Linked DNA regions of Homo sapiens. The protein of the gene in region 3 purifies or fractionates together with the protein of the main gene of each other region. This does not show direct contact. Each region holds a gene or a part of one and is shown on either strand. Other genes may lie near its edges.

Evidence for each region.
Region 1: the proteins of MARCHF6 (region 3) and TXNDC15 purify together in Homo sapiens (affinity purification with mass spectrometry; 4 studies listed by BioGRID and IntAct, with this or other methods). This does not show direct contact.
Region 2: the proteins of MARCHF6 (region 3) and TLR2 purify together in Homo sapiens (affinity purification with western blotting; 2 studies listed by BioGRID). This does not show direct contact.

Annotation. Positions count from the first base shown.
Region 1 is NC_000005.10:134,868,689-134,877,702, reverse strand, and holds the start of TXNDC15 (thioredoxin domain-containing protein 15 isoform 1 precursor), read right to left. Parts: upstream 3,333-9,014; 5' UTR 3,276-3,332; coding exon 3,173-3,275; intron 2,873-3,172; exon of another isoform or gene 2,571-2,872; intron 2,460-2,570; exon of another isoform or gene 2,305-2,459; intron 1-2,304. UniProt on the Homo sapiens protein: Acts as a positive regulator of ciliary hedgehog signaling. Involved in ciliogenesis.
Region 2 is NC_000004.12:153,700,818-153,707,333, reverse strand, and holds the end of TLR2 (toll-like receptor 2 precursor), read right to left. Parts: intron 5,108-6,516; exon of another isoform or gene 4,443-5,107; 5' UTR 4,427-4,442; coding exon 2,072-4,426; 3' UTR 1,074-2,071; downstream 1-1,073. UniProt on the Homo sapiens protein: Cooperates with LY96 to mediate the innate immune response to bacterial lipoproteins and other microbial cell wall components. Cooperates with TLR1 or TLR6 to mediate the innate immune response to bacterial lipoproteins or lipopeptides.
Region 3 is NC_000005.10:10,356,411-10,364,445, reverse strand, and holds part of MARCHF6 (E3 ubiquitin-protein ligase MARCHF6), read right to left. Parts: intron 1-8,035. UniProt on the Homo sapiens protein: Endoplasmic reticulum membrane-associated E3 ubiquitin ligase that plays a critical role in mitigating endoplasmic reticulum stress, the regulation of cholesterol and lipid homeostasis, and ferroptosis.

The DNA.
Region 1 (9,014 bases), about 120 Mb from region 3:
CCAGGAGGTGGAGGTTGCAGTGAGCCAAGATGGTGCCACTGCACTCCAGCCTGGGTGACAAGAGCAAGACTCCTTCTCAAAAAGAAAAAAAAAAATTTCACCTGCTAAACACATTCACAATCCATCTACTTTCCCCATCCCAACTAACACTTCTCAGCAAAGGCCACAGCCAATTCTTGTCTGGGCAACTACTGTAGCCACCTAAACTGGTCTCCCTGGTCAGCCTGCTATCCCCCCTCCAGACCCTGACCTTCACAGCAATACAAGTGAAACTGAAAGATAAAAGGCATATCTGATCATGTCACTCCCCTGCTAAAACTCTTTCAGTGGCTTCCCCTACCCTGTGAATGCATCTGCATTCTGTAGCAGAGCTACCAGGCCCCAATGTGGCCTCTGTCTGCACTCTCACCTGTGGCCATCAGATCCCTCTAGTCCCTGATCATTTACACTCCTCCTATCCCCACCTGCCTTAGAGCCTTCCTGAGGGCTGTTTCTCTGCTGGGAAGCTTCCTCCTGCCAAATCCTTCATCCTCCTCATTCAGATCTCACCCTAAATGTCACCTCTGTAAGGACACATTCCCTGACCCTCAGACCAGGGTGGGAGGTCTCCCATTACAGTTCCCAAAAACGCCCTGGGACTCTCCTTGATGCATTTCTCAGTCTTGCAATTTTCTTAGTAATTTGTAGTTATTTAGTGGCTGCCTTCCCCAAAGGCCTGCTGCTCTAACTCACCACTGGATCCCCAGTGCTCAGCACAGTGTTTAGCATATGATGAGTGCTCAGTAAGAATTTGCTAGCTGACTGCCTAGGGAAGAGTGGCATAGGGGTATTGAAGCCAGGAGTTTGCTTCCATTCCTAGACACCTGGATAGCATTGCTACCTCCAGGTTGCTTAGTCTCTCAGGGCCTCAGCACCTGAGGCCAGCATAATCTGCCAGTGGCATCCTCTGCAGAAAAAAAAAAAAAAAAAACACCTCAGATTTTCAGCTACTCTGAGAAGAAATCAGCTGGTGAAGTTTCTTCTGTCTTCACCCCATTCATGGCCTGGCCATGATGACCAAAGACCCAAGCTGAACCCTGAATCAGCCAGGGTTCTGCCAGGAAACAGCACATTTAACTTGGGCAAGTTGAGGAGAGTTTAATGAAGGGACCACTAATGTGTAGGCTGGGTGCAGAGAAATGAAAAGCAATGGTAAGGAATTCCAAGGCCAGTAACAGTAGAGGAGGAGCCAGTTACCACTCATAGACCTTAAGAGTCTGGAGAGAGAAGTAGTCACAGAACCTTGAAACATCAAGGGTAACACAGAGGGCAGCTTTCTAGAATTCAATGCTTTCCACCGGGGGCAAAGCCAGCCTTCAATAACTTCTCAGGGAGGGAGCGGAGAGAATCAATACCCTGACCTCACTCTCCCCTCATTCCAACACAATGGAAGCAAGACGGTAGGACAGCTGGTATTTATTCCACACAGGACAGCCACACAGGGCACAGAGCACGGTGGAGGGGCTGAAACAGAAGATATCCAACCCATGCCATCCCCTCTGTGAGGCTAGCAGTTAAGTATAGTGAAAATGCAGAGGTTGGGCTCTGAAGTCAGGCAGACATGGGCTTGAATCAAGGCTCCTCAACTTCTGGCTGTATGACCTTGTCAAAGGACTTATTGGCTCTGAGTCTTAAGTTACTTCTATAAAATGAGCATGATAACATCTACTGCATATGCATTTAAAAATTACTAAGGCCAGGCACGGTGGCTCAAGCCTGTAATCCCAGCACTCTGGGAGGCCGAGGTGGGTGGATCACCTGAGGTCAGGAGTTCCAGACCAGCGTGGCCAACATGGTGGACCATCATCTCTACTAAAAATACAAAAATTAGCCCAGTGTGGTGGCAGGCACCTGTAATCCCAGCTACTCAGGAGGCTGAGGCACGAGAATCGCTTGAACCCGGGAGTCAGAGGTTGCAGTGAGCCAAGATCGCGCCACTGCACTCCAGCCTGGGCAACAGAGCGAGACTCCATCTCAAAAAAAAATAAAAATAAAAATTACATAAACCGGGAGCAGTGGCTCACATCTGTAATCCCAGCACTTTGGGAAACAGGTGGGAGGATCACTTAAGCCCAGGAGTTCAAGGCTGCAGGGAGCCATGATGGGCCACTGCACTCCCGCCTGGGCAACAGAGCAAGCCCTCATCCCTTAAAAAAACAAAAACAAAACAGTAAAGATTCCAAAAGATGATGCTCGTAAAGCACTGAGCACAGCATCTGGTACACAGTGAGCGCTTTCATTCATGGTAATTGTGTTACTATGACTCACCCTTCTCCACAACTCTCTGCTGTCCTGCCTCCATCCAGGACACCCCAGGGAAAAGAAAGACCTGCCTATTCCTGTTAAGGTCTAAATGACAAGCGAGACCGAGGGTCTGGACTTTAACAGGACTATGAGGAGTGGGGTGAAGGAGCATGAAAGTAAGGCCTCCACTCTCCACCCTCGCCATGCCTCTAGAGTGGCTGCCTTCCCTACCGGCAAGTTGGGGGTTACCGGGAGTCTCCCGTGTTTCTCGTCTGTTTTTCATGCAGGGAGCTGAGCAAGACTGGCCTCCTTAAGACAGTGGTCCAGCAGCGTGGACTCCAGACTGGGCTTTGGCGTCAGAGAGACAGGCTTCTGCCACGTATCAGAAGCGCAAACTTAGGCGGGGCCTGAGCATCTTCATCTGTGAAATGGAGACACTAAACGGAACCGATCTGACAGGGTTTGTGGGAGCATTAAATGGGATAATGATGTAAATAAAGCACGATGCACAGTTCCTGGCTCCTAATACGGCCACAACAATGTCGGTATTTGATATAATGTTATTAATAATAAATTGCTTATCACCAGAGGGTATGCCTCAGCAGCGCTTACCGCACTGTCCCTCCTGGCTACCAGCCACGGGCTGAGGGCGGCCTGAACGCGGCCCAACCACCCCCGGGCTCCCGTCCACCGGCCCTCAGCCCACCGGCCCCCTTTCGCGGGCCACCAGCGGGCGGTGCGCGGGGAGAGAAGTCGGGGAGACGCGCCCGGGGAGACGCCAAGAAGGGGCGAGTCGCGCACCGCCGGCCTTCGCGCAGGTCCAGAGCGTCGCCCGGGTGGACCTCAGCTCGCCCCATCATCTCATGCACCGCCCCCGGCCCACACTCACCCTCCACGCCGCGGACGGGAAGTCCCAGCACCCACAGCAATACTTGCCACCAGCCGAGGAGCCGCATGACGCGGGGCGGTCGTCGACCGGCAGCCGGGACCATTGCCCAGGCCGAGAGGCAATCGGCGCACGGCTACGCGAGTCGTGCTGCCAGCCGGAGGAAGGCTGGGGGAGGAGAGCCTGGGAGCGCGGGCGCGGCCCCGCGCCGCCATCTTAACACCTGGCAGCTGTGGCGGGCGCCATCTTGGAGTCGGGCGGACGGCCTCTAGCCGCTGGCCGTCGGCGCTGGACTGGAGACCTCTTTAGGAGCTAAGCGCCAGACGTTGCAGGTCGTTTTGAACTCTGCTGACCCCAGAGTGCAGAGCATGGCTCTGGCAGAGGCCCATGGCCTCCTTTCTTCCCTCGGAAGTCAGAGCTTGGCTACTTGAAGCACTGCGCCCGCCTAAGGAGGGTTTTCCACGCTTCATTCCCAGAGCCAGAAAGGCCCAGGAGCCTTCCTGTTCTAGTGTCCCATCGAGGTGCAGAAACTTTGGAGGCTGCAAATCTTCTAATCGCTTGCCTAACCTGTGCTCCCCTACCTAGGGTTGCCACATAGAATACCTGATACCCAGTTATATTTGAATTTCACATAATGAATATTTTTTACTATAACCCTTATAGTATAAGGGATATACCTTAAAACTGAGCATCCTGTAACTTCGTGACATCTGGCAACCCTAACCCTACCTATCCACTCAGGGCAGGAGAGGTTGGTTTTAACTGATTTACCTTGCAGGGCAATCTCTTTTTAATCATGGTTGGGGCCGTGAGCATCATTGGCTCTGGCTCATGGTGGAGGTGGAGCCACCTCGAGCATAAAGTAGATAGGAAAGGGCTTAGAATGAAGAAAGCATAGATGGGGAGATGAGGAACAGGGCTCTGCATTCCCAAGCAAACGCACAGAGCGGGAGTCTTAAGAGAAAATTCTTGGAATAGAGAGGATGACACCACTAATTGGGGTATTTTGCCGGGGGGCCTGCTAAAATGGAATAAGGCAAGCTTTAAGCAGCCACCAGTCAGTGCTAAATCAGTGCAGAGTGCAGCTTTTCAAACTTATGAGGTTGAAAAAATAGAAACTGATTTAAAATACATCAGTCTATTGGTTAACATAGCAATGGTAAGGGGAACCTGTGCTTTTTGGCCGCTTGGTGAATCCCAACTTCAGCACATGTGATAGTTCACAGTCAGCAGGTTATGTAACTTAAAGTTAAGTTTCTTCAGCTGTAAAGTGGAAATGACGTTATATAGAGTCTTATAGATGAAATGAGATGTAAAGTGATGAGCACAGTGTCCTGGGGCACAGGAAGCATTTCAAAGTGGTAGGCATTATTAATTGAATAATACAATTCTGATGGTGTGGCCATAGTCCCCTTATCTCTATGCCCATCAAAAAGACACTGTTAGGCCAGAAAGATGCATCATTAATCTGTCCCTGTGGATGATTCTTTTATTCTAAATACGTTGGTATGGTTTTGCTGTTGTAGATCCTCAAGTGCCATCTTGTGGGTCCAGAAGAATATGAAACAATGGACATGGATAAAAGAGCCCACAGTTCTAGAGCTTATTACTAGTCATCATTTCGCTAAGTACCTCCCTCACCCCTAACAGTGGAACAACAAACCTTTCCTTTTTAAACTATCTTTCTCATACCCCCATACATGATTTGAAGGTGCATGAAAAGCCAACAGGACAGAGCACCAAAAGGATTTATGACTAATGAAAAGGAAGCTGATCTGGATACTCCAACATGGATGCCCTGTGGTTACTACTCCTTCCTTTTTATTATCTCCTTTCCTTTCCTGTATGTGTGTTTGTTTGATTTTTTTATTTTTTGAGACAAGAGTTTCGCTCTTGTTGCCCAGGCTGGAGTGCAATGGCGCGATCTTGGCTCACTGCAATCTCCACCTCCCCGGGTTCAAGCAATTCTCCTATCTCAGCCTCCCAAGTAGCTGGGATTACAGGCATGCGCCACCACGCCCGACTAATTTTATATTTTTAGTAGAGATGGGGTTTCACCATGTTGGTCAGACTGGTCTCAAACTCCTGACCTCAGGTGATCCACCCGCCTTGGCCTCCCAAAGTGTTGGGATTACAGGCATGAGCCACTGCGCCCGGCCCCTTCCTGTGTTTTTACTTTAGCTCTGTGTTTGGGACAGATACGCTTACAGATGTTAGAATTAGATGTTAGAATTGGATGTTAGAATTGTCTTTCAATTTTTTTTTTTTTTTAGGCACAGTCTCGCTGTCACCCAGGTGCAATTGCTCAGTTATGGCTCATTGCAGCCACAACCCCTTGGGCTCAAGCGATCTTCCCACCCCGTTTTTAAATTTTTTTCTAGAGATGAGGTCTCACTGTTTGACCCAGTTTGATTTCAAACTCCTGGGCTCAAGCAGTCCTCCCGCCTCGGCCTCCCAAAGGGCTGGGATTACAGGCTTGAGCGTCTTTGAATAAATACTGTATATACCCCCTCTAATGACAACAAATGTAGTCCACAGGTTAGAATCCTTATTTAACTGTCTCACCACCAACGTGCACTTCTTTTCAGTGAGAAAACTGCCTTCACAATTGTCCTGGTTTCTATCAAATTTCTGGGGGTGAGGAAAGAAAAGCTGACATTATTCTCTTCCTTTGGCTGAAATTAAATCCGCCAAATTTGTCTTGCTATCTCAAAAGGCCTTTCTGTGAGTCTGGGACATCTTATATCAAAATGCAAAACTTAAATATATAAGTAAATAAATAAATAAAAGAATACCAGGGTACTACGGTCATTTAGAATGACTGAGGAACCAAACTGGCTCCTACTTGCCAAAGATGGGATGATTTGAGCATAAAAATGAAAAATTTCAATAGACTGAAATACACTGCATATGTTAACATCTATGAGTTCACACTGCTAACAAAATTTTTTTAAAACTAGTCGGCCGGGCGCAGTGGCTCATGCCTGTAATCCCAGCACTTTGGGAGGCCGAGGCGTACTGATCACCTGAGGTCAGGAATTCAAGACCAGCCTGACCAACATGGAAAAACCCCGTCTCTACTAAAAATACAAAATTAGCTGGGCATAGTGGCTGCATGCCTGTAATCCCAGCTACTCAGGAGGCTGAGGCAGGAGAATCGCTTGAAACCGAAAGGCGGAGGTTGTGGTGAGCCGAGATCACGCCATTGCACTCCAGCCTGGGCAACAAGAGCGAAATTCCATCTCAAAAAAAAAAAAAAAAAAGAGAATGTAATTGGATTACTTGTAAATCAAGGATAAATTCTCGAGCGGATGGATACTCCAATCTCCCTGATATGCTTATTTCACATTGCATGCCTGTATCCAAACATCTCTGGGCCAGGCGCGGTGGCTCAACCCTGTAATCCCAGCAGTTTAGGAGGCCAAGGTGAGCAGATCACTTGAGGCCAGGAGTTCGAGACCAGCCTGACCAACATGGTGAAACCCCATCTCTACTAAAAAATACAATAATTAGCCGGGCATGGTGGCCCATGCTTGTAATCCCTGCTACCCAGAAGGATGAGGCAGGAGAATCACTTAAAACCCGGGGGGTGGCCGGGTGCGGTGACTCAGTCCTGCAATCCTAGCACTTTGGGATGCTGAGGCTGGTGAATTGCCTGAGCTCACGAGACCAGCCTGGGCAACACGATGAAACCCCGTCTCTACTAAAATACAATAGAAATTAGCCAGGCATGGCGGCATGTGCCTGTAGTCCCTGCTACACGGGAGGCTGAAGCAGGAGAATTGCTTAAACCCGGGAGGCAGAGGTTGTAGTGAGCCAAGATCAGGCCACTGCACTCTAGGCTGGGCAACAGAGTGAGACTCCGATTCTTAAAAAAAAAAAAAAGAATCCCGGTTGGGTGGAAGTTGCAATAAGCCGAGATCCTGCCACTGCACACCAGCCTCGGCAACAGAGCAAGACTCTGTCTCAAAAAACAAAAACAAAAAGAAACTCATTTATTCCATAAATATATACACCTACTATGTACTGGCAATTTTTTTTTCTCTTTTCTTTTTCCTCGAGACAGAGTTTCACTCTTGTTGCCCAGGCTAGAGTGCAATGGCGCAACCTCGGCTCACCGCAACCTCTGCCTCCCGGGTGCAAGCTATTCTCCTGCCTCAGCCTCCCGAGTAGCTGGGACTACAGGCATGCGCCAGCACGCCTGCCTAATTTTGTATTTTTAGTAGAGACAGGGTTTCTCCATATTGGTCAGGCTGGTCTCAAACTCCCGACCTCAGGTGATCCACCCGCCTTGGCCTCCCAAACTGCTAGGATTACAGGCATGAGTCACTGCACCCGGCCAAAAAATTTTTTTAATAATTTAAAAATTAACAAAAACAACAACAAAAACTACCAGAGATAATAAGTGAGTTTTGGAAGGTTGCCAGATAGAAGGTCACTATGCAGAAAACAGACTATATTTATATATGCTACCAAAAATCAAAAAAAACTTCTATTCACAGTAGCATCAAAAATAATAAAATATCTAAGACTCAATTCAACAAAAGAAGTTCAAGTTTTATACACTAAAACATAAAAAACACGGCTGAAAGAAATCAAGACAGATGAAAATCAGTGGAGAGACATACTATGTTCTGGATTGAAAGACAATATTGTTATGATGGCAATTCTGTCCAAATTGATCTATAGATACAACTCCTAAAAAAATCCTAGAGATTTGTAGAAATTGACAAACTGATCCTAAAATCTATATGAAACAACCAAAATGATTTTGAAAAAGTAGGAAGACTTACATTACCTGATTTCAAAACTTTAATTAAACTACAGTAATCAAGACTGTGGTATCGGCATAGGTATTAGCAGACAGATCACCAAATTAGACAAGTTAGCCCAGATATACACCTACACATCTACAGTCAACTGATCTTCAGTAAACATGACAAAGCAATTCCAGATGGAAAGGATAGCCAGTGCAGTGGCTCACACCTGTAATCCCATCACTTTGGGAGGCCGAGGCAGGCAGATCACGAGGTCAGGAGTTTGAGACCAGCCTGGCTAACACAGTGAAACCCCATCTCTACTAAAAATACAAAAAATTAGCCGGGTGTGGTGGCGGGCGCCTGTAATCCTAGCTATTTGGGAGCCTGAGGCAGAAGAATGGCATGAACCTGGGAAGCAGAGGTTGCAGCAAGCCGAGATCGCACCACTGCACACCAGCCCAGGTGACAGTGCCAGACTCCGTCTCAAAAAAAAAAAAAAAAATGGAAAGGATAGTCTTTCCACCAAATTGTGCTAGATTAATTGGATAGACACACACACACACACAAAATTAACAATGGGTAAAATTTATGATATGTAAATTATACTTCAATAAAAAGAAATAGCCGGGCGCCGTGGCTCACACCTGTAATCCCAGCACTTTGGGAGGCCGAGGTGGGCGGATCATGAGGTCAAGAGTTCGAAACCATCCTGGCGAACATGGTGAAACCCCCGCCTCTACTAAAAATACAAAAATTAGCTGGGCGTGGTGGCTCACCCCTGTAGTCCCAGCTACTCGGGAGGCTGAGGCAGGAGAATCACTTGAACCCGGGAGGCGGAAGTTGCAGTAAGTGGAGATCTGCCACTGCACGCCAGCCCGGGCAACAGAGCGAGATTCCCTCTCAAAAAATAAATAAATAAATAAAAATAAAAATAAATAACAACTAAAAAACATTTTTAAAATGCTGGAACAGTTAGGACAATTTTAACACTAGATGCTTGATACTTATAAACATTGTTGATTTTTTAAATTGTAATAGTGGTACTGTGCTTATGCTTTGAAAAAAGTCTTTAGGCCAGGTGCAGT
Region 2 (6,516 bases), on a different chromosome or scaffold from region 3:
TCAAGCAATCCTCCTGCCTTAGCCTCCCAAAGTGCTGGGATTACACCAAGCCTGATTTTTTTTAAGGCTGGCTACCGTTTCCTCCATAACACTCTTCTGGGAGGTCGTGTGAAACAGCAGCAGCCCTATGCGAGTTCCCCAAGGACAAGCTTGTTCTGCAGTTAATGAGCATATATTTCTTTGTGGTATTTTTCTGCAAACAGCAGGATCCCTTATATCCCTGCTAGTATCCATAACAGAAAAATATCCACTTACAAGCCATAATATATAAGGGAATGAAATATCTTCTTGGAAAATAATAATAATAGCTAACATCTACTACAGACATCACCCTCACCCCACACACGAACCCATAGTGCCCATTCTCTTAGGCGTGGTACTCTTGCCCTCAACACCCCTCCAGAGAAAATGGGAATCAAGGAGCTTAGGCTCATGGTTTACTTACATTCCTACATTTCATACTCTCAGTATCTTAGGATATAGAGATCATCATCCCTATTTTAAAGACAGAAAAACTTTTTGGGTCATGTCAACTGACTTGCCAAAGATTACACATCTACTAACCCAGGTCTTTCTGACTCTAGTGCCCAATTAACCACATACACCCAGTTCTGGTTGAGAATTGAGCAGGGGTCAAAGGCTCACTTCCTTTCACATGGTTCCCAGCTTAAGAAAGTTACATAGAATCAGCAAATAGTGCTTACCAAAGAAAGTTGCATCAAAATTTAATGTGTGGTATTATTATACCTAGATTGCAAAATTAACATATGGTAGTAGTATCTACCTTTAAATTACTGTGTATCAAACTATTTTTGAGTCATTATGAGGAAACTCTAGGTATATATTTGCTTAAAAATCTATTTAGCTCACATGTACTTTTTAAAATATTCAGAAGGGGAAAAAGGGCAGGCTTTTTTAGAATTAAAAACAAGACTTTTCGAAGAAGGAAAAAGCAACAAGATGCAGGAGATATAGGCTAAAAAACAGGAACTGAGAGTCAGAGTGATTGGACAATAACTAGAACTCAAAAGGTAGTTAGAGGCTGAGGAAGACCAGAGTCCGGATGTGGGAAGTGTCTTTCAAATTCTCCTAAACTGAGTATTTATTTTGTTAAATTACAGAAATACATAATTTACTGTACCTTGCACTGTGTACTCACTCTCTCAAGTAACTATGGCTGGAGAAACCTATCTAATAGCCAGAAAGACAGATCCAGATCACATGAAAATACACCCTCTAGTATTTCTCATCCTGTAAAGTTTAATAGGAAATACACAGCACTTTTTTCTAGGAATAGCAACAAGTTTTGGGGAGTGCCCCAAATACTTTGCCTTGTTGCTCTTGAGATCAGCTGCACAGAGAAGTGACAGCTAGGTAGGACAGAGAATGCCTTTTGTGGCCACAGAGGAGTCTCTTAGCAGGAAGAAAGAATGACACAGTCATTGAGAATCTTAAGTTCATTTGTGCTGTTTCCTAATGAACTAAGCCAGTTGCTACAGATTACAGTTGGCCCTCTATATCCATGGGTTCTGCATCCATGAAGTCAACCAACTGTGGATCAAAAGTATGTTTTAAAAATTTTGAAAATAAAAAATAACAATAATAATATAAATAAAAAGACAGTACAACTATTTACATAGTATTTACATTGTATTGGGTATCATAAGTAATCTAGAGATGATTTAAAGTATACAGGAGAATGTACACAGGTTATATGCAAATACTATGCCACTCTTATAAGGGACTTGATCATCTATGAATTTTGATATCCACGAGGATCCTGCAACCAATTCCCTTGGATACCAAGGGACTATATTCAGATATCAGTAATAGACTTATGATCATGGTTATCTCATAGAAAAAAGAAAAACCAAAAACCAATTTTTAAATCTGGCATATGTTTATAAAACAGCACCCCAGACAAAATTTGAAGTTTTGTAGTTTTAGTAAGCAAGTCCTCAAATGACGGTACATCCACGTAGTTTTTATATAATTATGTCTGAATGAACTTAACTATAACTAGTGACATAAAGATCCCAACTAGACAAAGACTGGTCTTAAATATGGGAACCTAGGACTTTATCGCAGCTCTCAGATTTACCCAAAATCCTTCCCGCTGAGCCTCGTCCATGGGCCACTCCAGGTAGGTCTTGGTGTTCATTATCTTCCGCAGCTTGCAGAAGCGCTGGGGAATGGCTTTTTTCTCAATGGGCTCCAGAAGAATGAGAATGGCAGCATCATTGTTCTCATCAAAAAGACGGAAATGGGAGAAGTCCAGTTCATACTTGCACCACTCACTCTTCACAAAGTTTTCAGAAAGCACAAAGACAGTTTTGTGGCTCTTTTCAATGGAGTCAATGATATTGTCAATGATCCACTTGCCAGGAATGAAGTCCCGCTTATGAAGACACAACTTGAAGGGGGGATTGAAGTTCTCCAGCTCCTGGACCATAAGGTTCTCCACCCAGTAGGCATCCCGCTCACTGTAAGAAACAAATGCATCATAGCAGATGTTCCTGCTGGGAGCTTTCCTGGGCTTCCTTTTGGCCTGGAGCCAGGCCCACATCATTTTCATATACCACAGGCCATGGAAACGGTGGCACAGGACCCCCGTGAGCAGGATCAGCAGGAACAGAGCACAGCACATGCCAGACACCAGTGCTGTCCTGTGACATTCCGACACCGAGAGGCGGACATCCTGAACCTGCTGGCCACGCACATGGGATGGAGAGTCACACAGGTAATTTGCTGGCCAATCAATCAAGACTTTGGCCAGTGCTTGCTGCTCCTGAGTGAAGGAGAGGAATTCACAGGAGCAAATGAAGTTATTGCCACCAGCTTCCAAAGTCTTCAGTGTGTGAAATGAGTCAAGTTGCTCCTTAGAAAACGTAGTTATTGCATTCCTACTGATTTTCAATACTAGTAACATGGGTAAGAGGGAGGCATCTGGTAGAGTCATCAACTTATTTCTGGAAATATAAAGTTCTTTGAGTTGCGGCAAATTCAAAGAAAATAAATTGAGATTGTTGTTGCTAACATCTAAAATTTCCAGTGTCTTGGGAATGCAGCCTGTTACACTGTGTATTCGTGTGCTGGATAAGTTCAAATATTTCATCTTTTCTGGCCACTGACAAGTTTCAGGCATAGAATGAAAACTATTCTTACTGATATCAATGTTAGTCAAGTTTTTCAGAGTGAGCAAAGTCTCTCCGGTTTTTTCCAATGATGCCAAATGATTTTGCCTTAAAATTAAAGTTTGTAGAGAGGGCCAGGCATCCTCACAGGCTGAATTTTTCAAGTATTCTTCAACCATCAAATTTTCACTGAGATCCAAGTATTCTAATGATTTTAAATGTTGTGAAAGTAAACAAGGAACCAGAAAAACTTTACTGTTTTCTACTGTGATTCTTTTAACTCTTTCTGTAAGTGAATATAAAGTGCTCAGATCATAAAATAAGTAAAACCTTGGAATATGCAGCCTCCGGATTGTTAACGTTTCCACTTTACCTGGATCTATAACTCTGTCATTATCAGATGCTCTAAAATTACCAACTCCATTAAGGGTACAGTCATCAAACTCTAATTCTAACAATCCAGAAATCTGATTCAAAAGTTTCATAACCTGAAACAAACTTTCATCGGTGATTTTCACATTTCTAAATGTAAACTTTTTAATCAATGAATTTGTTTCACCAGTGGATAGTTCTGAAAAATGGAAAGTGTCCAAATCAGTATCTCGCAGTTCCAAACATTCCACGGAACTTGTAACATCTACAAAAATCTCCAGCAGTAAAATATGCTGCTTCATATGAAGGATCAGATGACTTACATTCTGAATTGACTTCAAACTTTTTGGCTCATAGCTCTGTAGATCTGAAGCATCAATCTCAAGTTCCTCAAGGAAGGTAAGTCCAGCAAAATCTTTTCTTTGAATCTTAGTGAAGGTGTCCATATTTCCCACTCTCAGGATTTGCAATTTTGTGAGATGAGAAAAAAGAGATGTTTCCCCTAGGGTTTTGTAAGGATTTCCCAGTAAGTTTAAGAATGTTAAAGAAGAAAGGGGCTTGAACCAGGAAGACGATAAATTAGATAAGTAATTATAGGATAAGTCTAAATGTTCAAGACTGCCCAGGGAAGAAAAAGAATCTTCCTCTATTGTGTTAATTCCATTGGATGTCAGCACCAGAGCCTGGAGGTTCACACACCTCTGTAGGTCACTGTTGCTAATGTAGGTGATCCTGTTGTTGGACAGGTCAAGGCTTTTTACAGCTTCTGTGAGCCCTGAGGGAATGGAGTTTAAAGATCCTGAGCTGCCCTTGCAGATACCATTGCGGTCACAAGACAGAGAAGCCTGATTGGAGGATTCTTCCTTGGAGAGGCTGATGATGACCCCCAAGACCCACACCATCCACAAAGTATGTGGCATTGTCCAGTGCTTCAACCTACAAATAAAAGAGGTTCAAATAAGTCATTGTGTTTGACAGCATATCGTAATTCTAATTCTTGAGAAATGTTTTCTAGGCATAACACACACACACACACACACACACACACACACACACACACACACAAAGAGAGAGAGAGAGAGAAACAGATGAATGGAACGAATGAATGGGGATAAAAAAATGAATTCCCTGATACATTCAGCAATGCTAACACAGACATACAACCACTATGCAGTACTTAAAAGCACAACCATCCGGAATTACAGAGCAAGACTCAATAACATGGATTGGAAGAGTGAGTAAATCAATGAATGGAGGAATGAGCAATCAAGCCTTTTAAGAAATGGGCTAAGCTTAACCATATGGATTTACAATCACCTTTTTCTGCACTTCAAACTTTCTTAACATTTAAGCATTTCTTTTCTCCGCTTCAGTGGCCGCCTTGATTCATAGAGATCTCACAGAACCAAACTATAGTTCTCATTCACTGAATGAAACTCCAGGAGTAGCATGCTTTGGGACCAAAAGAAAAAAGTTCCATGTTCATCAACCTGCCTCACACCTATCACTAGCAGGCAGGAGGGGTGTTGGAAACTCGAGGCAGACCAAGGTGGTTTGCTGAGTTGAAGGAGACTCACACCATCAGAACCCTGTCTTCCTGCCTAGAAGTAAATGCAAAAAGCAGTGTTTAAGTCTGGATGGGCTGTTCAGATTAATGTGGGGGAAATAAAACTATCTGCACCACAACTGCTAGTTTACTTGTAACCATAAACCCAACAACTTTCTCTTTGCCTACCTTCTGGGCCCTATATCATTCTTTGGTCTATTCAGCTACCTCATTTCTTGCATCTGTATGCCTTTGTCTGTATTTTCTCAGTGTGCTAACTATACAAAAATTTTTTTAAAAAATTTATCCCCAAGAACAAAACTTTTTATGAGTAAAACTAATTCCCCACATTCACAGAATCTGAGAGACTATAAAGGCCTGAGCTGTACAATTTATGGCCACAAAGAATTAAAACACAAACATGCTTGGTTTGGGAATTTAAATGCTGTTGAAGCCAGAATTTTTGTGTTCGCACCAAAACCACTGCTTCGCATTCCCTCTTTTTTTTTTTAAATAAATGGGTCATACCATGCATATTTATTCTGGATTTTCTTTTTTTTTTCCTTAGCTTTATTAAGGTATAATTGGTATACAAAGAAACTGTACATAATCAATGAACACAATTTGTATACATTATGTATACACACATATGTATACACTCATGGTATCATCACCGCAATCCAGGAAGTAAACATATTCATCATCTCCAAAAGCTTCTGCCACTCTGCGGTTGCCTTTTCACTTTCATAATGGAATCTTTTTGTCTTAGTCCATTAGTGCTTCTGTAACAAAATACCAGAGACCAAGTAATTTATAAAGAACAGAAATGTATTTATTATAGCTCTGGAGGCTGGGAAGTCTAAGATCAAGGCATGTGCACTGTTGTCTGGTGAGGGCTTCTCTCTCCTTCCAAGATGGTGCCTTGTTGCTGTGTCCTCACATGGGAGAACGCAAGAGGGCAAGGGGGCACTACATTCCATCTCAAGGCCTTTTATAAGGATGCTAATCCCATACCTGAGGAAAGACCCCTCATGACTTAGTCACTTCCCACAGGTCACACCTCTTAATACTTAGTTTTAGGATTAGTACTGTTACAATGGGGATTAAGTTTCAATATGAATTTTGGAGGAGACACTGCTATTCAAACTATAGTACTTTTGATGAACAGATGTTCTTATATTTTATATATTTTAATAGTGAGTTTTCTAGCCTATTTTTAAAATATTTCCTGTATTTTCATAAAGATATTCTCTTTGTTATTTTCTAAAATCTTTATTGCTTTGCCTTTCACTTTTAGATCTATAATCTACCTGGGGTTGATATTTGAGGTAGCAGAAGGATTCACTTTTTTCCCATATGGATGTTCAATTAACTTGTTTTTTACAGATCATCTTGAGGAAATAATCAACAATATTTTTTTGTTAATAGGGACATGCCCATATAGGGGTAGATCTTGTTTCAGTG
Region 3 (8,035 bases):
CTCCTGCCACACTATCAGTAGTTTTGTTTTAATGAACACCTTCATACAGCCCTGCTGATGAGGACCCAACACACTCCAGGACTTGCACAGGTACACACAGTGATATCCCAACTCCCTCTGCATAACTGCCCATCAACCTTGGCTCACCTGTACCCGGAAGGTTGCTTTCTGCTCCCCAGAAGAAGTGGTGTACCACTTTACACTCCCACCAGCAGTATATGAAAATTCCAACTGCTCTACCTCCTTACAAACACTTGGTACGGTCAGTCATTCTATTACCATTTTAGCCACACTAATAGGTATGTAATGATATCTCACAGTAGTTTTAATTAACAATTTTATTCAGATATATGTCATAAAGTTCACCAATTTAAAGACTTCAATTGTTTTAAGTATATTTACAGTTACGCAACCATCACCATAATCTTTTAGAACATTATCATCATCCCAAAAGGAAACCCTGTAACTATTAGTGGATACTTCCTACTCCATCTGCTCTCCCCAGTTCCAGACAACCACTAATTTCTCTATATATAGATTTGCCTATTCTGGACATTTCACACAAATAGGATCATAGAAAATATGTTCTTTTGTGACTGGCTTATTTCACTTATCCTAATGTTTATGAGATTTATCCAAGTTGTACCATGCATCAGTACTTAATTCCTTTGAACTGCTGGGTAATATTCTATTTTACAAATAGATCACATTTATCTACTCATCAGTTGATGGACACTGGGTTGTTTCTATTTGGCTATTATAAATAATACTGCTAACTCATATACAGGTTTTTGTGTGAATATATTTTTTGAATTCTCTTGGGTATATGAAATTTCTGGGTCATATGGTTACTCAGCTTATCTTTTTGAGGAATTACCAAAATCAGTCACACTATCTTACATTCCTAGCGTAACAAATGAAGGTTCCAATTTTTCTACAATGCTCACCAACACTTACCTGTTCTTTCTGATTATAGCCATCCTAGCAGGTGTGAAGTGGTGTCTCATTATGGTTTTGACTAATGATGCTTAGCATATTTGCATATGCTTAATAGCCATGTACATGTATTTTTTAGTGAAGTGTCTATACAAATCTTTGGACCATTTTAAAAACTGAGTTATTGTTTTCTTATTACTGAGTTCTGAGAATTTTTTATATACTCCAAGCCCCTTATAAGATACATCTTCTGTATCCTGTCTTCATTCTGTTAAGTGTCTTTCTAATTTTGAAAGAAATTCTGAATTTTGATGCCATCTGATTTATCCACTTCTTTTATGGATCATGCTTTTGGAGTCATACCTAAGAGATCTTGGTCTAACCCAAGATTCCGAAGAATTTCTCCTATATTTTCCCCTAGAAGTTTCATAGTTTTAGGTTTTTCATTGAGGTCTAACAGCCCTTTGAGTTAATTTTGGTATATGGTACAAGCTATAGCTCAAAGTTCTTTTTTTTTTCCTACAGCTATTCAACTATTCCAGTGCCATTTGTTGAAAAACGATATCCTTTATATTTTATGCAATTGCTTTTGCACTTCTGTCCAAAAATCAACTGTCCATGTATGTGTGGATCTATTTCTGGACTCTATCCTACACTACCAGACAAATGGATTTTAATTTAACAGTTAATTTAATTTTTTAAGGTGACTGCCATGTTTTCAGATACGTTAAGAAACTACCACTTGTCAAGTTTTGACATAGTATCAAAGAACATACAAACATCTGAAAATATTCATCCCTTTTCAAGCTATAAATCTGTGTGATGCCGAGTTTTTATATACACTAACCAAAACACTTAACAAAGTGACTGCAAAGGGAGAGATGAGAATCCAATTGTCTTATAATAATCCAGATAACGTTATTTTTATTAACATATATTGAGTTTATTGTTACTTTTAAATATTCTAAATAATTTGTATTCATTCTTCATTTCTAATATGGTAAATATCTATCTTTACATATAAAACCCACATAAACAAAAGTCCTTTGGGTCCTCAATTTTAAGAATGTAAAGGGGTCTTGGGACAAAGCTTTGAAAACCACTACTCTAGCTACATCAATGCTCTTCAAACTGTTCCATTCAATAGAAATGCCTCTTGGCACTTTTCAAGGACTTGGAATGAAGAAATGAAACATGCAGAAAACATTGTTGCACAGGTCCTAGATACGTAGTAGACATGTACCCAATATTTGGTAAATGGGGAAGTAATCAAAAAAGACATGGAATCTCCAATATTCTATTTCAAAAGTGTTATAACAGAACTGCACCCTAAACAGGGTAAATTTGTGTGTAAATTATACTTTATTAACCTGATTCCATCTTTACAGAATACATTAAGAGGTGACAGAAGGGAAGGAGAGAGACAGGAAAGTAAAAAGTGTATTACAGCCAGGCACAGTGGCTCACACCTGTAATCCCAGCACTTTGGGAGGCCGAGGTGGGCGGATCACCTGAGGTCAGGAGTTCAAGACCAGCCTGACCAACATGGAGAAACCCCATCTCTACTAAAAATACAAAATTAGCCAGGTGTGGTGGTGCATGCCTGTAATCCCAGCTACTCGGGAGGCTGAGGCAGGAGAATCCCTTGAATCCAGGAGGCGGAGGTTGCCATGAGCCGAGATCGCGCCATTGCACTGCAGCCTAGGCAACAAGAGCTAAACTCCGTCTCAAAAAAAAAAAGATATTATAATGAAGTTAAGTTATAAAAAATAAGTGTACAGGGAATGCTTCAGTCTTCCAAGCCTTCAAGAATTCATGTCTATCATGGGCTGAATTGCACTGCCCCTCCCCCCGTAATTCACGTGTTGAAGCCCTAACCTGCATGTATACACAATGTAACTATATTTGGAGACAGGATCTTTAAAGAGGTAATTAAGTTAAAATGAGGTCCTTAGAGTAGGCCCTAATCCAATATGACTAGCGTCTTTAAAAAAAGAAGAGATTAGGACATAGAGGGACAACTACATGAAGACATACAGAGAGAAGACTACATGAAGACACAGAAGACAATCATCTACAAGCCAAGGAGAGAGACCTCAGAAGAAACCAGGCCTACCAACACCTTCATCTCAAACTTCTAGCCTCCAGAGTTGAGAAAACAAATTTCTCTTAAGCACCCAATCTGTAGTACTTTGTTACAGCAGCCCCTGCAAACTAAAACAATATCTAAAACTGAACTACTTATCTCTTTCCATTCCCATTTGAAATAATATAAAAATCAATCATTTTTAACTCCTCCTCCTTATATTACCTCTTCAATTACTATGTTCTATTAATTCTACCTTGGTCTATTTCTTCTTTTCCATTCTTTCCATTCCCTCTACCTTAATGTAACTCCTATATCTCATCTAGCCTACTGCAACAGCATTCTAAAATATAGTCTGAATTATTAAGTTTTCCCTTGGGGGGTTCTTACTTCCTATTCACTTTTCAAGAACTCTTTCTGTTCTAACTGTATTATACTAAAAATAAGTGATCTTCATAGTCTTACAGGACAGAAGTAAAACCCACTAAAGTAAGCCTGGCCTGGAAGAAATGGGAAGTAGGCATCTGGAAGAGGATAGCCCAGCAATAATCACTCACAGGGCTTCAGTCTAAAAAGTATTCTAATTGAGCAATATAGCAGATCTCTTTTGCACTGTCTTACCAGCTCAAGAATGGACACAGCCAGTCATGATTCTTATTCTTCCATTACCTTTCCCACCACCACCCAGCTACCTGGATCAAAAGGATAAGCAACTGACCCAAGATGAGCCAGTGAGATTGTAGCTTCCAGAAATTTGAATTTAAGACAAACAAAAACTTGTCTTAACCAGGAAAGAGATAGACTCAGTAACCCTGGGGGATTGGTTTCAGGAAGTCCACAGGTGCCAAAATCCACAGATGCTCAAGTCCCTTATGTAAAACAGCATAGTATTTCCAAGTAACCTATGCACATCCTTCCATATACAGGAGTCCCCTGAACAAGAGTTAGGGGCACCGACCTCCTGCACAATCAAAAATCCACATACAGCCGGGCGCGGTGGCTCACGCCTATAATCCCAGCACTTTGGGAGGCTGAGGCAGATGGATCACCTGAGGTCAGGAGTTCAAGCCAATATGATGAAACCCCATCTCTACGAAAAATACAAAATTAGCCAGGCATGGTGGTGCATGCCTGTAATCCCAGCTACTCGGGAGGCTGAGGCAGGAGAATCGCTTGAACCTGGGAGGCGGAGGTTGCAATGAGCTGAGATGGTGCCACTGTACTCTAGCCTGGGCAAAAAGAGCAAAACTCTGTCTCAAAAAAAAAAAAAAAAAAAAAACACACACACATACAACTTTTGACTCCCGAAAAACTACTAATGGAAAACTACTAACAGCCTACTGGTGACCAGAAGCCTTCCCATAACATAATACAACATAAACAGTAGATTAATACACATATTGTACTACTTTTTTTTTGAGACGGAGTCTTGCTCTGTTGCCCAGGCTGGAGTGCAGTGGCGCGATCTCGGCTGACTGCAAGCTCCGCCTCCCACGTTCACGCCATTCTCCTGTCTCAGCCTCCCAAGGAGCTGGGATTACAGGCACCCGCCACCACATCCAGCTAATTTTTTCTATTTTTAGTAGAGACAGGGTTTCGCCATGTTGTCCAGGCTGGTCTCGAACTCCTGACCTCAGGTGATCTGCCTGCCACCGCCTCCGAAAGTGCTGGGATTACAGGCGTGAGCCACCGCACCCAGCCTTTGTATTACATTATACTAGGTATTATGAGTACTCAGGAGATTATTTAAAGTACAGATCTGTGAACATCACAGTTTGAACTACATGGGTCCACTTATACGCGGATTTCTTTCTTCAATAAATATATTGGAGAATTTTTTGGAAATTCACAACAATTTAAAAAAAGATGAACTGTGTAGCTTAGAAGGAGCAAAAAAAATAAAATTATGCCATGAATGCATAAACTGTATTATATGTATTGCGTACTGTATTATATGCTGCATTCTTACAATATGTATTGTAATATTATATACTGTATTCTATATTATATACTTTATTTTTACAATAAAGCTAGAGAAAAAAATTAAGAAAATCAGAAGGAAATTACATTTACAGCACTGTACCATATTTATTGATACCTGTCTGTTTACAAGATAAATCATTCTGAAATGGCCAGCAACCACAGCTACAAACCTCAATCTATGGCACATATGAAGCAATTCGACTTTTTCTTCATAATGTCATGCCTTTTTTCAGCTTCCTGGAGCACTTCCAGCATCACTTAGTGGCACCTCATATGGATCCCATCATGTTATTCAAAGTTTAGGGTACTGCACTAAATGCAATGAAAAATACAAGAGAATCCAGAGAGATACTTTTTACCATATACAATTTACTGGAGAGATGAGCTCCAACAACAGCAACACTTGAGCTCACAACAACAGCAACGGAAGGTGGCCACAAAATTATTACAGTAGCACAGTATGCACTACGGTTAATTTCATGCAGTTATGATTTAATACTGTATCTTTAAGTTTCTTTACATCTCTCAACTGTGAATGGTGCCATGTACAGTCTCCATTACATGTTTGTGTGTGTAAGTTTTGATAAATTTTAACATTTCATGACAGATTTGTATATATTTTATGATAGTGAGTAAAAGACTAGTATCTACATATATTTTATGCATTAATGACATAACTTTTTAACTTTCTCACTATTTCTAGACTACACAGTTCATCTGCAAGTTTTTTCAAATTGCTGCAAATCTCCAAAATTTTTTTCAATATATTTATTGAAGAAAAAAATCCATGTGTAAGTGGACCCATGTAGTTCAAAAACCCATGTTGTTCAAGAGTCAACTGTACTTTAAATTATCTCTAGATTACTTAGAATAATTATAACATAAATGTTATGTAGTCATCATACTGTATTGTTTGAGGAATAATGACAAGAAAAAAAGGCTGTACATGTTCAGTACAGAGGTAATCATCTATTTTTTTCCAAGTATTTTCCATCTGACATTGGATGAATCCACAGATGCGAAACCCACAAATACAGAAAGCTGGCTGCATATCAAGACAATTTATGTCTCACGTCAGCTCAAAACCCTCCCATAGCTCCCTATCTCACTATAAAAGTCAATGAAGTCCTACATGCTCTCTCCCCATTGGCTCCATATCTTTCTGACCTCATATTATACTTACTCTTCTCCAACTCTTTTACTCCGTTACAGCTACACTGCTCTCCTGGTGATTTATTGAACACTCTAGGCATGCTCCCATCTTAGACACTTCACATAGGCTATGTTCCCTCTGCCTGGAATGCTCTGCCCAGAGTATCTGCATGGCTAACTCCTTCTCCTTTGCTCCTTCTCAGTGAGGCCTTCCTTTACTGCTATATTTAAAACTGCGACCCCTAGTGAGCCAAGATCGCGCCACTGCACTCCAGCCTGGGTGACAGAGCAAGACTCCGTCTCAAAAAAAAAAAAAAAAAAAGCAACCCATGCCCTCATATCCTGGCACTTCTTATTCCCTCCCAATTCACTGTTCTCCACAGCGTTTATAACCTTCTAGTTATGCCATATAATTTACATGTTTATTTTGTCTTAAGCTAATAACTATAATGTAAGCTCTATGAAAGAAAGGATTTTCTCTATATTGTTCCTTGCCTAGCCCAAATGCATAGAATAGTGCCTGGCTCATAACAGGTCCTCAGTAAACATTTAACGAATAAATGCATGTACACTTGGTCACAAGCATGCCAAAACAGTGAAAGGTAATGCGTGGTAAGAAACATGCAGCAGACATCTCTGGAAACAAAGAAGACTGTGTGGGTCTAGAAAGAGAGGAACTAGCTGTCTGATTCTGACAACTTTCTATCCTTTTAACTCATTTCTTCCAAATTTAAGTTACCTCAAATTTTTGCCATAGTGATATAGAACATGATCAACCATAATACTCTTTAGCTTCACACTTTTCGAATGAATATGTTCCGTAAAGCATAAAGAACAGCTGCTTTGGTATTCTGTAATAAAATTACTAAGACTTTGTATTATGTTGTGCTAATACAAGCAGTAATTTAGCAAAATGGAAAAGAAAAAAAAAAAAACCTCAGCTTTATATCACTGAGCCGAAATGTGGGCATTCTATGACAAAATGTTTAATATTATCTTTGAGAACTGCACATCAACACTTGCAACATCTATTCCAATATTGTACTGCTTTTCCTTTAAAAAAAAAAAAAAAAAAGTATATCCTTGACCAAAGGATAGACTTTTCTCTGAAACTGAGAAATCTCAGTGCATTACAGGATCGGACTCCTAACCCATAAAATGAGGAGGGCAAATGTCTAAGGTCTCCTATAGCTCTGAAGTTTAAAAATGTCAGGATGGATAGCAGTTGACATAACACATCTGCACTCATACAAATAACATATACACAGTAAGAATGATTTATCCATCCCTGTATTATGAGAATGGATTATAAACCTGTTGATTTTACAAAAATTAATTTAATACTGAAGAAACTTTAGAGATCTTTAAAATCTAGCAAACAATTAGTATGAAACAGCCATGTCGGAACTAAGTATTACTACAAATGCATAACATTCTGAGCATCAGACTATCATATATGGTACCATCAGAGGCAAGCAATGTGCTATTTTTAAAAGGAAGGGAAGACTTACTATACGCACGGTTGATGTGTTTGTAACATTCTTAATCTCTTTGCTCAGAATATTAAAATATATTTTTAAAGGACAGAGAACCGGCCAGGAACGGTAGCTCACGCTCGTAATCCCAGCATTTTGGGAGGTTGAGGCGGACAGATCACCTGAGGTCAGGAGTTTGAGACCAGTCTGGCCAACATGGCGAAACCCCATCTCTACTAAAAACACAAAAATTAGCAGAGGGAGGTGGCGCGCTCCTGTAATCCCAGCTACTCAGGAGGCTGAGACAGGAGAATCGCTTGAACCTGGGAGGTGGAGGTTGCAGTGAGCAGAGATCATGCCACTGCACTTCAGCCTGGGCAACAGGGCAAGACTCCATCTCGGA